Linked DNA regions of Homo sapiens. The protein of the gene in region 2 interacts with the protein of the main gene of each other region in a pairwise test. Each region holds a gene or a part of one and is shown on either strand. Other genes may lie near its edges.

Region 1 (7,455 bases), on a different chromosome or scaffold from region 2:
AGGGGCTTACAAAGCCTTACACAGGGCGAGGGGTTGGTGGGAGGGTTGGCACCTGCACACTCCATCTCCTGCTCACCACCTGCCTCTAATCTGAGCTGCAGCCTGGCTGGTCCTCCCATTTCTAAAGCTGAATGTCAAACAGTGCCAAATGCTGGGGCAGGGGGTGAAGAACCCTCTGTCCCACCCCTAGCCACCAGTGTCCTCCAAGTGCCCCCTCACCTCTCCAGGTGCTCATTGTAACCATTTCTCACTAGTGTCAGGCCCCCAGTGGGACCACATGCCACTGCCTGCACCTTTCGGCAGAGGAACCCCCACCAGACATCACCCTTTGCCTTAGCAGGGGTGACTTTGTCTCTCCTGGCTGGGCCATCCTTCCGCCAATCTGGCCCTTACACACTCAGGCCTGTGCCCACTCCCTATCTCCTTCCCACCCCTACACACACACTCCCTGCTTGCAGGAGGCCAAACTGTCCCTCCCTTGCTGAACACACACACACACACACACACACAGGTGGGGACTGGGCACAGCTCTTCACACCATTCATTCTGGTCATTTCCCCCAAAGGCATCCCAGCCTGGGGGCCAGTGGGGAACTGAGGGCAAGGGGATATAGTGATGGGGCTCAGATGGACTGGGAGGAGGGGGAGGGTGATGCATTAATTAATGGCTTCGTTAATTAATGTCATGTTGCTTGTCGCTTTCTCAGTGTGTGTGTGTGGTCCATGCCCACTGCTGGTGCCAGGGTGGGTGTCCATGTGCACCCGGCCTGGATGCCAGCTGTGTCCTTCGGGGGCGTGCGTGTAACTGTAGTGTAGTCAGGTGCTCAATGGAGAATATAAACATATACAGAAAAATATATATTTTAAGTTTAAAAAACAGAAAAACAGACAAAACAATCCCCATCAGGTAGCTGTCTAACCCCCAGCTGGGTCTAATCCTTCTCATTACCCACCCGACCTGGCTGCCCCTCACCTTGGGCTGGGGGACTGGGGGGCCATTTCCTTTTCTCTGCCCTTTTTTTGTTGTTCTATTTTGTACAGACAAGTTGGAAAAACAACAGCGACAAAAAAGTCAAGAAACTTTGTAAAATATCGTGTGTGTGATTCCTTGTAAAATATTTTCAAATGGTTTATTACAGAAGATCAGTTATTAAATAATGTTCATATTTTCACTTCAAATGGTTCCCATCCACTGTATCAGCTTGGGGGTGAGGACTGGGTAGCTATGAAGACAGTTGGCCAAGACCTCAGAGTCCCACTTAGTGCTCTGCAGGGGGTGAAGACCATGGTAGCCCAGGTCCCTGTCAACCACAGGGCATGGCACTTGCTTCCACCAGTTATAATAGGTGCCAGGCCCTTGACATACATTGTCTCATAACATCTCAAAAAGCTGTCTTTTAAAAACAAGCAAGACAGGCTGGGTGCGGTGGCTCATGCCTGTAATCTAGCATTTTGGGAGGCCGAGGCGGGCAGATCACTTGAGGTCAGGAGTTTGAGACCAGCCTGGCCAACATGGTGAAACCCCGTCTCTACTAAAAATACAAAAAAATTAGCCAGGCATGGTGGCATGCGCCTGTAATCCCAGCTACTTAGGAGGCTGAGGCAGGATAATTGCTTGACCCCAGGAGACGGAGGTTGCAGTGAGCCAAGATTGCGCCACCGCACCCCAGCCTGGATGACCGAGCGAGACTCTTGTCTCAGAAAAAAAAAAAATACAAGCAAAACAAACACCCTCCCAGAGCCTGAAAGCCAGGACCCTGGAGGGAAGAAGACAGATCAGAGATGCTGGTTTAGTGGGGAGGTGGATCTGGCAGTCTGGTCAGACCACCAGGGCCTGACAGGGCCTCTGCCGGGAGCTATGAGTGAGCACCTGGCCAGTGTCCCTACGGCCCAGGAAGCCCTGACCACAAGTGCAGCAACGGCTCCCTCCTGGCCCACAGGAGCTTGAGGCCGCAGCTGCTTAAACTGGAGCCATAGGCCAAACTTCATTTTTGTGAATCCTCTCAAGCTTAGGCCCTAGTTCATTTTCACCCTAGAAGGTGTGACCTTTGCGATCTTCTCATGTGGAGAGAATTATAACCTGTAACCACCAGAGCACAGGTGTCCCTGCCTTCCCACCACAGTCCTCTCTCTCCTCCCAACACTCTGCTCTCTGCGCACTGACCTGGCTGAGTCCTCGCCACAGTCTCTGGGGTGGGTACTAGTGTATCCCCATACCACAGATGAGCAAACTAAGAGGAGAAAGCCTTTCCCCCCAGGTGAGAAGGCTAAAAACCAGCAAAGATTTTAGAGAAGAGGTGGCCACCAAGGGTTGGGGAGCTTGGATGCTAAATAGATGAAGGGGCTTCGAGGCCTCAGCCAAGATGGAGACTTTTTCTGTCTCCTCTGCAGGGTTCGGCTGCAGAGCAATGCCTAATCCACAACCCCCAAGACAGCTCCCATGGCCTGCAAGAGACCGTGCAATCTTGGATAGGGTTGTAAGATAAAATACAGAACACCCTATTTTGAATTTCAGATCATGAACGAGTTTTTAGTATGGAAGTGTTTCAACTATTGTGTGGGACATACCTATACTGAAAAACTGGGGGCTGGGCACAGTGGCTAACGCCTGTAATCCCAACACTTTGGGAGGCTGATGCAGGAGGATCGCTTGAGCTCACGAGTTCGAGATCAGCCTGGGTAGGATGGCCACCCCGCCCCTGCCCATGTCTCTACAAAATAAAAAAATTTTAAAAATTAGCTGGGCACAGTAGTGTGTGCCTGTAGTCGCAGCTAATCAGGAGGCTGAGGCTGGAGGATCCCTTCAGCCCAGGAGTTAGAGGTGGCAGTGAGCTATGATTGTGCCACTGCACTCCAGCCTTGGACAAAGCTAGACCCTGTCTCAAAAAAAAAAAAAAAAAAAAAAGGGGGCAGGGGGACATGATTATACTCGAAGATTACTCATTGTTTATCTGGAATTCAAATTTGACTGAGCATCCTTATTTTGATTTGCTAAAACTGGCAACCTTACCCAGATGTGGCAACCAGTGGGAACCCAGACCCCAGAAAAAAAGCATCAGCACCCTTTTTAACCTGTAGGCCATGCACACATCAGCACACACTGAAATCAGTGGCTGAAAGGAAGGGATCCTGTGTTTTATAAAAGCACTTTGTCATAGAATTATTTTAATTATATGGACAGCTTTTTGTTTTGTTTTGAGACAAAGTTTCGCTCTTGTTGCCCAGGCTGTAGTGCAATGGCATGATCTTGGCTCACCGCAACCTCCGCCTCCCGGGTTCAAGCGATTCTCCTGCCTCAGCATCCCGAGTAGATGGGATTACAGGCATGTGCCACCACACCTGGCTAATTTTGTATTTTTAGTAGAGATGAGGTTTATCCATGTTGGTCAGGCTGGTCTCAAACTCCCGACCTCAGGTGATCTGCCCGCCTCAGCCTCCCAAAGTGCTGGGATTACAGGCGTGAGCCACCGTGCCCAGCCTATATGTACAGTTTTTTAAAAGTAACTCCATATACAAAAAAAAAAAAAAGACACAGAACACAACCTGTCAGAAGTCACTGTGGCGTGAAGTGGGACCAGAACAGGCCTAGCCCAGGCTTGTGGAGAGACCTGGCTTGTAGAGAGACCTCTCATCCTCCGCAGTTATCAGAAGTCCCTGGTGGGGAGGAGGGTCACTGAGGGCTGCCCAGCCTCGTCCCTATGCGGGAGGGAGCCCTAGGTTCGTGCTCCAGGTCCACCTCACTTGGAAAAAGGGCAACGTGAAATAACAAACAAAAAACTTTTCCAAGTGGGAGAAAACAAACAAAAAAAGGCAACATGTGCAGCACTCGCTGAGCACCCAGGGTGGACTGGCATTTTACACCCCTTTCCCCTTTGATTATTAGGACAGGAAGATCATGTCATCAGCTACATTTTATGGCCCATGAAACTGAGTTTCAAAAAGGTTCAGGAACTTAACCAACCAATGCCACACAGCCTCCGAGGCAGAGCAAGGGTTCCAGCCTGGGTCAGGTCCCATTCACCAGACCACGGAGGTTCTGTTTCTCACACAGTGACACCTACCCACACGCCAGCCAACAAGGACACACTCGCTCAGAGGTACACGCACAAATAGAGCTACTCTTCCTAGGGAATTCAGCAAGTGTGGGGGCTAGAGCTGTGTTGCTTCCCGAACCCTCACCGCCGCTTTCAGGGGTTAGAGATGCTAATTCATCCCTTCCCACCTCCTGAGAACCGACGGAAACGGTCCCTGAGAACTACAACTCCCAGCACACCCCGCGCTCACCACAACGGGACCGGTCCGTGCTCATGGCCTCCTGGGACTTGTAGTTCTAGCCAGAACCCTGTTCAACTCTTCCCCGGCTGCAACCAAGGACTCCGTATCCCAGCATGCAGAGGAGCCGGAAGACAGGCGCTTAGAGGACAGCCCGCTGCCGCCGGGGACGCGCAGGCGCAGCACCCCTGTTTGTCGGCCCCCCGAGAGAAGAGGTACGGTCGAAGCCAGGAGCCAGGCCGAGCGGGAGCTGACCAGGCTTGACTCGGGTACAGAACGAGGCACCAGTCCCCTTGCGAACCGAAGGGCCTCGCAGTGGATGGAGGAGGCCCAGCCCTGAGGTCAACGCCAACCAGGCTAGCCTGGCACGGGGCCTACAGGGTGGGTAGGCGGGCGTGCCGCAGCCGTCCAGGGCCTTCCCTCAGGTCCCGGGCGAGGGGCCTACGCTGCGGCCCGGCAACAAGGCCCGACTCGGCCCCTCGGGACCAGAGCCCCACCCGATCGGAAGCGGATCCTTTACCAGGGCCATAGGCCAGTGACTAGGCCGGGCCTGGGCCTCCCATCGGGGCCGGACTAGGACGAGGCCCCGGGGAGGCCCCTGGCCTACCAGACCCTTTTCTCAGGCCGACAGCCGCCAGGAAGATGCAACGTGCCCTGCCAGGCGCCCGCCAGCACTTGGGGGCCATTCTGGCCAGCGCCAGCGTGGTGGTGAAGGCTCTGTGTGCGGCGGTACTATTCCTCTACCTGCTCTCCTTCGCCGTGGACACAGGCTGCCTGGCGGTCACCCCGGGCTACCTCTTTCCTCCCAACTTCTGGATCTGGACCCTGGCCACCCATGGGCTGATGGAGCAGCATGTGTGGGACGTGGCCATCAGCCTGACAACGGTGGTGGTGGCCGGGCGTTTGCTGGAGCCCCTCTGGGGGGCCTTGGAGCTGCTCATCTTCTTCTCAGTGGTGAATGTGTCTGTAGGGCTGCTGGGGGCCTTCGCCTACCTCCTCACCTACATGGCTTCCTTCAACCTGGTCTACCTGTTCACTGTCCGTATCCACGGCGCCTTGGGCTTCCTAGGTGGCGTCCTGGTGGCACTCAAGCAAACCATGGGGGACTGTGTGGTCCTGCGAGTGCCCCAGGTGCGCGTCAGTGTGATGCCCATGCTGCTGCTGGCGCTGCTGCTCCTGCTGCGGCTCGCCACGCTGCTCCAGAGCCCGGCGCTGGCTTCCTATGGCTTCGGGCTGCTCTCCAGTTGGGTATATCTTCGCTTCTACCAGCGCCATAGCCGGGGCCGAGGGGACATGGCTGACCACTTTGCTTTCGCCACTTTCTTCCCTGAGATCCTGCAGCCTGTGGTGGGTTTGCTGGCGAACTTGGTGCACAGCCTCCTGGTGAAGGTAAAGATATGCCAGAAGACGGTGAAGCGCTACGATGTGGGTGCCCCATCCTCCATCACCATCAGCCTGCCAGGCACAGACCCTCAAGACGCCGAGCGGAGAAGGTACTGTGAAATTTTCCAAAATCTTGTCAAGCTAGGAGCATACTGGTCGAGTCACATGCCATCTGTTGAGGTGTTCGCTGTACATAGGTGGAGACCTACAGTCAGGTATTGGGGCACATCCGGAAAGACAAAATCAGTCTTTGGCCTTAAGGAACTCAGCAGTTAGGTGTCTGGGGTCCACGAGGCACTTTTCTCACCACTCGGGCCACTTAATAAGTCTCAAGAAATGCAGTTTCCTTTGGTGCTGTGAAGTCCCAGTGGAGGGACACAGAACCCTGGCCTTGCCTCAGAATCTCAGAATCCTAGACATTGGGCCTGTGGGAGCCAGAAGCAACCTGCTGGTACTTTCCCCTGTGAGGAAGGGACAGGGAAGGAGGCCTGGGGTCCTCAAAAGGTGATCTGGGCCACTCCAATTTCCAAATGCTGTGTCCTCTTCCTGGGCTTTAACTCAGATGCTGTGCTTCTCTGCCACTTACTTATTGAGAGGGAAGCTTGGGGTATTACCACATTTACCTCTGTCTCCAGCAAGCATGTGTCACCAAAACCAGGGACAGGCTACATGACCCACTGAGGGAGCCTGCTGACACCAGGGAGTGGCGATGACCCTTTCATTATCTGTAAACCAAGCTATCCACAGCATCAGGAGTCCCAGCTGAATTATTCACTGAATGCACTTTGGCCAGGGCAGGAGGGATCTTTTTAAATTCAGCTTACTCTCTCTCCCAGATCTGTGGAGCCAGCAGAGTGGTCCCAGCCTTCATAAGATCCACAGCTCCATTTCCAACATTATTCCTCACTGTTTTGAGGCAATTACTCGAGTAGTAAAATCTGGGACGGGCTTTGTCTTTTGCATTGCCAAGGCTCCTGCTTTTGCTCACCTGTGAATGGGGTTGTGGCAGGAAGCTCTATGAATTTAGCTGCAGTTATCCCTGTATTTACTCTCCACTGGGCTATGGAATTGAGTGTGGGACACACTCCTTTCTTGAAGGAGTTCCAGCTGGGGAAGGGCCACAGATCACTATGGCCCAAGGTATGGTAGGTGTTGAAAAGTATATACAGCATGCTGCAGGGCATAATTCTGGGCCCTAGAGCTTGGGTCTTTATAGGTGATAAGCCCTAAGGACAGAAGTCTCTCTTAACCTTAGCTGGTATTAAAGATGGGGCCAGGTGAGCTGGGCCTGGTAGGAATTGAGCTGTCCCTCAGAGCCATTCAGGTGGGGCCAGGCCAGTGGGGACCCCTCCTCCACTGAGAGGTGTTGGAATGTTAGGGTTGGCTGGACATTCAAAAACCTCTGCCTAGGCCCAAGAAAATGGACAGGGGGGAAGCAGGTTGGTGGGGAGGAAGGGAGGGTCAAGAGGCGGGTTCTTGGCATAGCCTTATGGTTGTTAGCTTACATGGGGGTGGCGGTTATTCCTCCAGCCAGTTTGACATCTGACTGCATGGCCACGCCCAACTCCAAAGGGCTACCAGGAGAGGGAGGCAGGGTTTCCTATCTGTCTCTCTGGTCCTTGTGAGGAAGTGACTAGCGTAACACTAGCTCTCTGCCTTGGCAGGCTTTAGATGGAACTGGCAAGGGCATCATCAGGATGGCAGCCTGGGTAGCAGCAGGGAAAGACTGTCCTGTCTATACCAACTTGTCATGTGTGAGACTGACGGGCAGGGGGGAAGCGTGCTAGGGCTTTCTACACCT
Region 2 (6,133 bases):
ATTCCCTAAATCCATCAACAGTACACCTGCATCAAAGATACCTCAAGATTCAAGTCTACTTAAGATTGTTCTTCTACTGTCTTTGCAAATGTCAGAAAGGTAATAATGCTTCCAGGAGACTGAATAAAAGCAAGAGGCAACTAGTACTACAAACATTTCCAAAGTAATACAAAATATATGATAAAGAGGGAAGAACAGTAAATGAATGTCATAATTTAAGAAACATTTAAGACTGGACTTTAATTTTGCAGGATCTTTTTATCTCCCTCTTACCCTTTATTTTTAAACCAAAGACTCCAAGAACATTCTAGTTGGAAGCCCTCCAAAAGAAACAGTATTCTCTCATATACTGCTGATAAAAGTATAAATTGCTTAGAGTTTTCTAGGGGGCAACATGGCAGTAACAAAAGCTTTTAAAAACTGGCATACCCTCTTCACTAGCAATTCCACTTCAAAGCATTTATCGTGAGAAAATATGAACACATACGAGATTTAGCAACACAATGTTCTTTAAAGCACTTTATTAATGAAAGTTGGAAACCTAAAAATTGAACAGTAGTTTAATAAAATGTGGCACATATGATGGAATATCATGCAGCCATTAAGAGATGTAGAAATATACTTGACACAGCAAGACAGTCATGGTATTGTTGAGTGAAAAAAAGTTACAAAACAGTATGTACACTTTGATCCCATTAAAAATATCTATAAATGCACAGAAAAGTCTGGAAGGCCATATACTTAAATAACAGTGGTTCTCCCTGGATGATGGAATTATCAGTGATTTTTCTTTCTCACTGAATCTTTTTTCTTTTTGCCAACAGGGCTATGACTTGTATTATAAAAAAGCATTAACAATTCTTTAAAAAGTGTCCTTTGAAGTAAGAATGAGAGCAGAACTTAGCAATCTAAGAGGCACAGGGATGTACACATGGTTTCTGATACTGTTTTAACGGTTTGTCAAGGTGTTTTGATGTTAGTCACCAATTAAAAGGCACTGTGTTGAGTGAAAACGTGGATGGTGGTAGTGCTTACTTTAGACTAAGCAATCCATTCCTAGAAACCTTCCACAGCAAACAAGTACTGGCATTCTAAGCAATACTTCCCACTATGATATCCTTATACCTTCCTACCCACTTGTAATACAGCCCAGAAGTTTCCCCTACATGGACAGGGCACTGTTGTTGGTTAAGGGTTACAGAAGGCAGAGAGGATTTTTCAAGTGATGTCAGAGAATAGGCCTGAAGGTGAAATGAATGTTCTCTTAGTTCTATTGCAGTGGTTCTCAAGCTTAGAGTGCAACAGTATTACTCAAACAGCTTTTACAACAGATTGCTGGGCTCCACTCTCAGAGTTTGATTCAGTAGGTCTCTGAAAAGGCTTATAAATTTGCATTTTTCTTTCATTCAACAAAAATTTATTGAGTTCATACTATGTCCTAGATCTTGTGCTAAGAGTTGGGAATGTAACTGCCATCAAAAGAATTATAGTTTTTATCTCAGGGAGCCTACATTCTAGAGTGACAGATATACACTAAACAAATAAATTATAAAAATAACTATAATTACAATGACTACTGCTAGAACACAATTAAGATTAGAAGACTCAGTTTTTGTCTTAAAATATTTAAAAAGCTGTCACATGGAAGACTGATTCCATGAGCCCTTGAAAACAAAAAATAAGTAAAAATGAAGGTAGAAAGTTCTTGAAAATAGTAATCAGCATTTTAAACAAGTCTCCAGGAGATGCCAATATTGCCGGTCTGGGGTCTCACACTTTGCCAATCACTGCTCTACTGAGTAGACATTTTTTCTTTCCTTGAGACAAGAGTCTTATTCTATCACCCAGGTTGGAGTGCAGTGGTGCAATCTTGGCTCACTGTAGCCTCTGCCTCTGGGGTTCAAGTGATTCTCCTGCCTCAGCCTCCCGAGTAGCTGGAATTACAGGTGCACGCCACCATGCCCGGCTAATTTTTATATTTTCAGTAGAGACAGGGTTTCCCCATGTTGGCCAGGCTGGTCTCGAACTCCTGACCTCAGATGATCCACCCGCCTCAGCCTCCAAAGTGCTGGGATTACAGGCATGAGCCACGGCACCCAGCCCTGAGTAGACTTTCTAATGAGCGTAATATGGGAGAAAGGGCAGGGGTGGTTGTGGAACTCTCTCTCCAGCGTTTGAGACTCACATGAGGTAAAAGCCACTTCATCTTATCTGGAGGTCTTGAGGCAAAGTTGGCTATAGGCTAAACTATGAAGCTATCTCTCCATTACAGCACCTCACTGAAGCTTAAAGTGCTAAATAGTAGGGCAATATTTCAGAATTTCAGGTGTTTGGGAGATAGGGAAGGAATTTTTCTGGAATTCTGTCAGCATGGAGGTGAGTGGGGCCTCTATGGGTAAACAAGTCTGTGGGTTTTTGCCTTGCCCTCCATTGTCTTCTCCACTCCACAGTTTATCCCAGAAATGTTTCCCCAACACTAGCTTCCCAGTCTCACTTTGTTCTTTGTTCAGGGGGAGGATAACAGGAGACTATGAAGATGACTCTACCCCACTGGTGATCCTGGCCTCAGGATTTATTTCCCATGTGACGCAGAGTGAGGAGGCACATTCCCATTTTTGAGACCTCATTTCTTGCAACATCAATTTTTCTGATTAGCACCATAAAAAGTTTTAACACCATGACCGTTTAGGTTAGATTACTTTGAGGAAAAAGGTAGACACAATCCAATCACTTTTTTTTTCATTTATAGAAGAGCCTACAATTATTTTAGTTTTTCATTCATATGTGCATCCTTCACATGTCACTATACTTTCAGATTAAGCTCAGTGGCACAGAGCTTATTTAAACAATTCTGAACTGCACCATGAATTAATAGGCTTCCCAAGCTTTTTCTTCCACGCCCAAGAAACTTCAGGCCTTTACCTGAGTAAAAACTAAACTTGACTTTAAAATAAGCCAAAACCAAAATAAAACCCAAACAACCAAACCCCATTAAAATAAAAAGCAATAAACCTAAGAACAAGCATATATATTGTGGTGGTTCTGTGGTAGACAAACGTACCAGAAGCCTTTGAAGCTTAACATTATTGAAGGTTTCTGTACATTACTGGGTAACTAAAATCAACTTTCACTTGATGGAAAGCTGAAAGTTCTGAAAAATGATTTATACTGACTGTGGGAAGGTTAAACCTGGGGTCTGATTTAAAGAGGGTGGAGGATAGGATTGATAGAGAGAAAACAGAGCCCAGATGTAAAAGAGGTATCTCTGGTGCACAGTGATATGCAAGGCCTATAGACTTGGTAGGTCAGGATGCTACAGGGGCTAACAAGGGGAAACTGATATTTACAGGATGTGTTTACTATGTGCCAAGCCTTTCCCTGAAAGGCACCTGAAATACAAGATAACATTTGCTAATCCTCACAACCACCCTATGGTGTCATAATTATTGTCCTCATTTTACTGGTAAGGAAAAGGCAGTTATACATCTCATTTGAAGCTTAAAGAGCACAATATGTGAGGAAGACTGGATTTGAACCCAGGACCATTTCACTCCATTACCGATATTCTTTCCCCTGTATTACTACATTTCCCATAAACCTAATTCATAGTTGCTGTTTAAGTCGATCTGAAGTTTTGGTATGATCTTTCAAAGCCTAAATCTGGACTTATAAAACACAATAGATGGTACTCTAGGCTGTAGAACTTCCTTTCTGAGGGGAGAGAAAATTTCATTTACTTGGTTTTACAGAAAACTGACCAGCTTGAGCAGCTTTTCAGGGTTTCTTTAAGAATATGGCAATTGAGAGTGAGTCAAAACATCTTGTACAACTATAAAACTGCAGAAGAATTTGTCTCATGGCACAGAAATAAAAGGGTAACTACTACTTTTAAAGTTTAGACTGTGAGTTAAATTGTCAACATGTTTACCAAGTTCTTATTAGGAGCTCTTAACACAAAATTTTAAAACGGTGTTTAAGTATTCATTTTTTTAAAAGTACCAAAAAGTATCATTTTAATAGCTTAACATTCCCTCAATAAATGAACTATACTTTTGTACTTCATGCTTAAGTTAGAGTAAATTGCTTTAGTTGTCAGAATGTGCTATGCTATCTTGGTTACACATCTTTTTATCTGGAACAGTTCTTCCCCAGACCCTCTCTCACTCCCAAAACTGGAGTTACATGACTCCCAAATACAGTACCTTGTATTTTCCCCATCACACCACGAATCCTACTATAGGATAATTGCTTAATTTTCTGTATCCTTTAATGGTCTTTAAGCTCTGCAGGGGCAAGAACTGTGTGCATATTGTTCAGGACAGTATCCCCAGTTGACCAGCACAGTATCTGGCCCTCAACAAATGTTTGTTGAATGAATGAATTAGAACAGAAGTCTTAACATGGAAACAATGATTTATAGCAATGGCCCCAACAGCAATTTTCTAGCTTCCAATGTGTCACTAATAATTTCATTAGTATGTGTTTCATAAGCAGAGATCCTCATCAAGATAGCCTGTGTTCATTAATAAATTTTCAATGTTTTAATAGTAAGCTCAGAGTGACCCAATTTATTTTGTTCGTATACAATTTATAATGTAGTTGCATTATTCCGTATTTGTATACAAATCTGCTGTTCAATAAGAACACATTCTCTTTACTGTACCACAGTACAGTAAATGGATCCAATCCCAATTATGCATTAAATTGTGCCAACTGAATAATCTTAAAAACTTTATGTTTAATGAAGTAAATTTGTCCTAGATTTTCTAGAACCTTAACTACAAATTTATCAGAGAAATACGGTATTGCTTTTCAAGAACTAGTTGTTCTTAAATTTAAAAGAAACCATTCAGTAGTGTTTAAAAAACCAAACAACTCTGAAAATAACCCATCAAAACATAATATTAAAATCATTTGATTTCTGTTGGAAAACCAGGTAAACATAGTTTAAATGCGTTTTTGTCTATGAAAGCATTCAGAAAATTCTACTTTTCACAAAAGAGGTTTATATCCTACAGCTCTTTTTAAGACCGAAAGTTTAAAATAAATTTTAATTTTATTCTTTGGCTATTATTTATACCTAATAAATGAGTCGCTGATATCAATTCACAATAGATTTATTTTACATAAAAGAAAAAGCTTGCTGTTAATGAAAAATCCAGTAGAAAACAGTTCTGCTTTAAGTTGAGGCTCAAAAGTAGAAGCTGCTTATTAGTGAAACCTCAATAAAAAGAGAATTTTGTAAGAAAACATTCTTGGCATGAAAGCTCTAACATAAATTCTGTAATGAAATATTTACCATGCAACTTTATTGGCAGAAAGGCCAGTTTCTGATGGCTGGTATTTTCAGTCTCTTAACACATTAACATGGAAGATACTTAACCTGCTTTATTTAGAGTTAATTGTATATAAATACAAAGTCATGATGGGCAACCTTTCCATAGTCCACCTACTTAATTGAGCAGTTCTAAGTAGGTAATTGGCACCTTGCCCTTCTGGTTTCCCCTTTCCCCCATTAGCCAGTCTGAATCCATTCCAACAACACTGAACACAGTGATCACCTGCAAAATAAAATACTTCCAGTTATTAACTACATTAAAAAAATAAACAAGTAGAAAACCAATCAGATTTGTATTTAATTTGTTTAAATTATTCACCAAAAGGACTTTAAACGTTATTATCAATTGTGCTGAAAAACAAAGGATTTATTTATTATTATTAGTTTTTTGAGGCAGGGTCTCACTCTGTTGCCCAGGCTGTAGTGCAGCAGCATGATCACGGCTCACTGCAGCCTTGACCTTTCGTGTTCAAACGATCCTCCCACCTTAGCCTCCTGAGTAGCTGGGACTACAGGCGCACACCACCATGCCCAGCTAATTTTTCATATTTTTTGTAGAGATGAGGTGTCGCTATGTTGCCCAGGCTGGTCTTGAACTCCTGGCCTCAAGTGATCCCACTGCCTTGGCCTCCCAAAAGTGCTGAGATTACAGGTGTAAGCCACCATGTCTGGCCTAGATAAAGGATCTTATTGGAGGGAGTTTTATACATCTTCAAGTTATTTGGCAGTTAAAAGTTTTAAATATTTCTATGATATTCTATTAAAGAATATTAATTAAAATTTTATGTTAATATA

What was found. The genes of interacting proteins can lie anywhere in the genome.
Region 1: the proteins of SH3GLB1 (region 2) and TMEM115 interact in binary tests that used the Homo sapiens proteins (3 or more experiments, as listed by UniProt).

Annotation. Positions count from the first base shown.
Region 1 is NC_000003.12:50,356,522-50,363,976, reverse strand, and holds the start of TMEM115 (transmembrane protein 115), read left to right. Parts: upstream 1-4,455; 5' UTR 4,456-4,913; coding exon 4,914-5,764; exon of another isoform or gene 5,765-5,859; intron 5,860-7,455. UniProt on the Homo sapiens protein: May play a role in retrograde transport of proteins from the Golgi to the endoplasmic reticulum. May indirectly play a role in protein glycosylation in the Golgi.
Region 2 is NC_000001.11:86,742,556-86,748,688, reverse strand, and holds the end of SH3GLB1 (endophilin-B1), read right to left. Parts: intron 5,562-6,133; coding exon 5,454-5,561; 3' UTR 505-5,453; downstream 1-504. UniProt on the Homo sapiens protein: May be required for normal outer mitochondrial membrane dynamics. Required for coatomer-mediated retrograde transport in certain cells. May recruit other proteins to membranes with high curvature. May promote membrane fusion.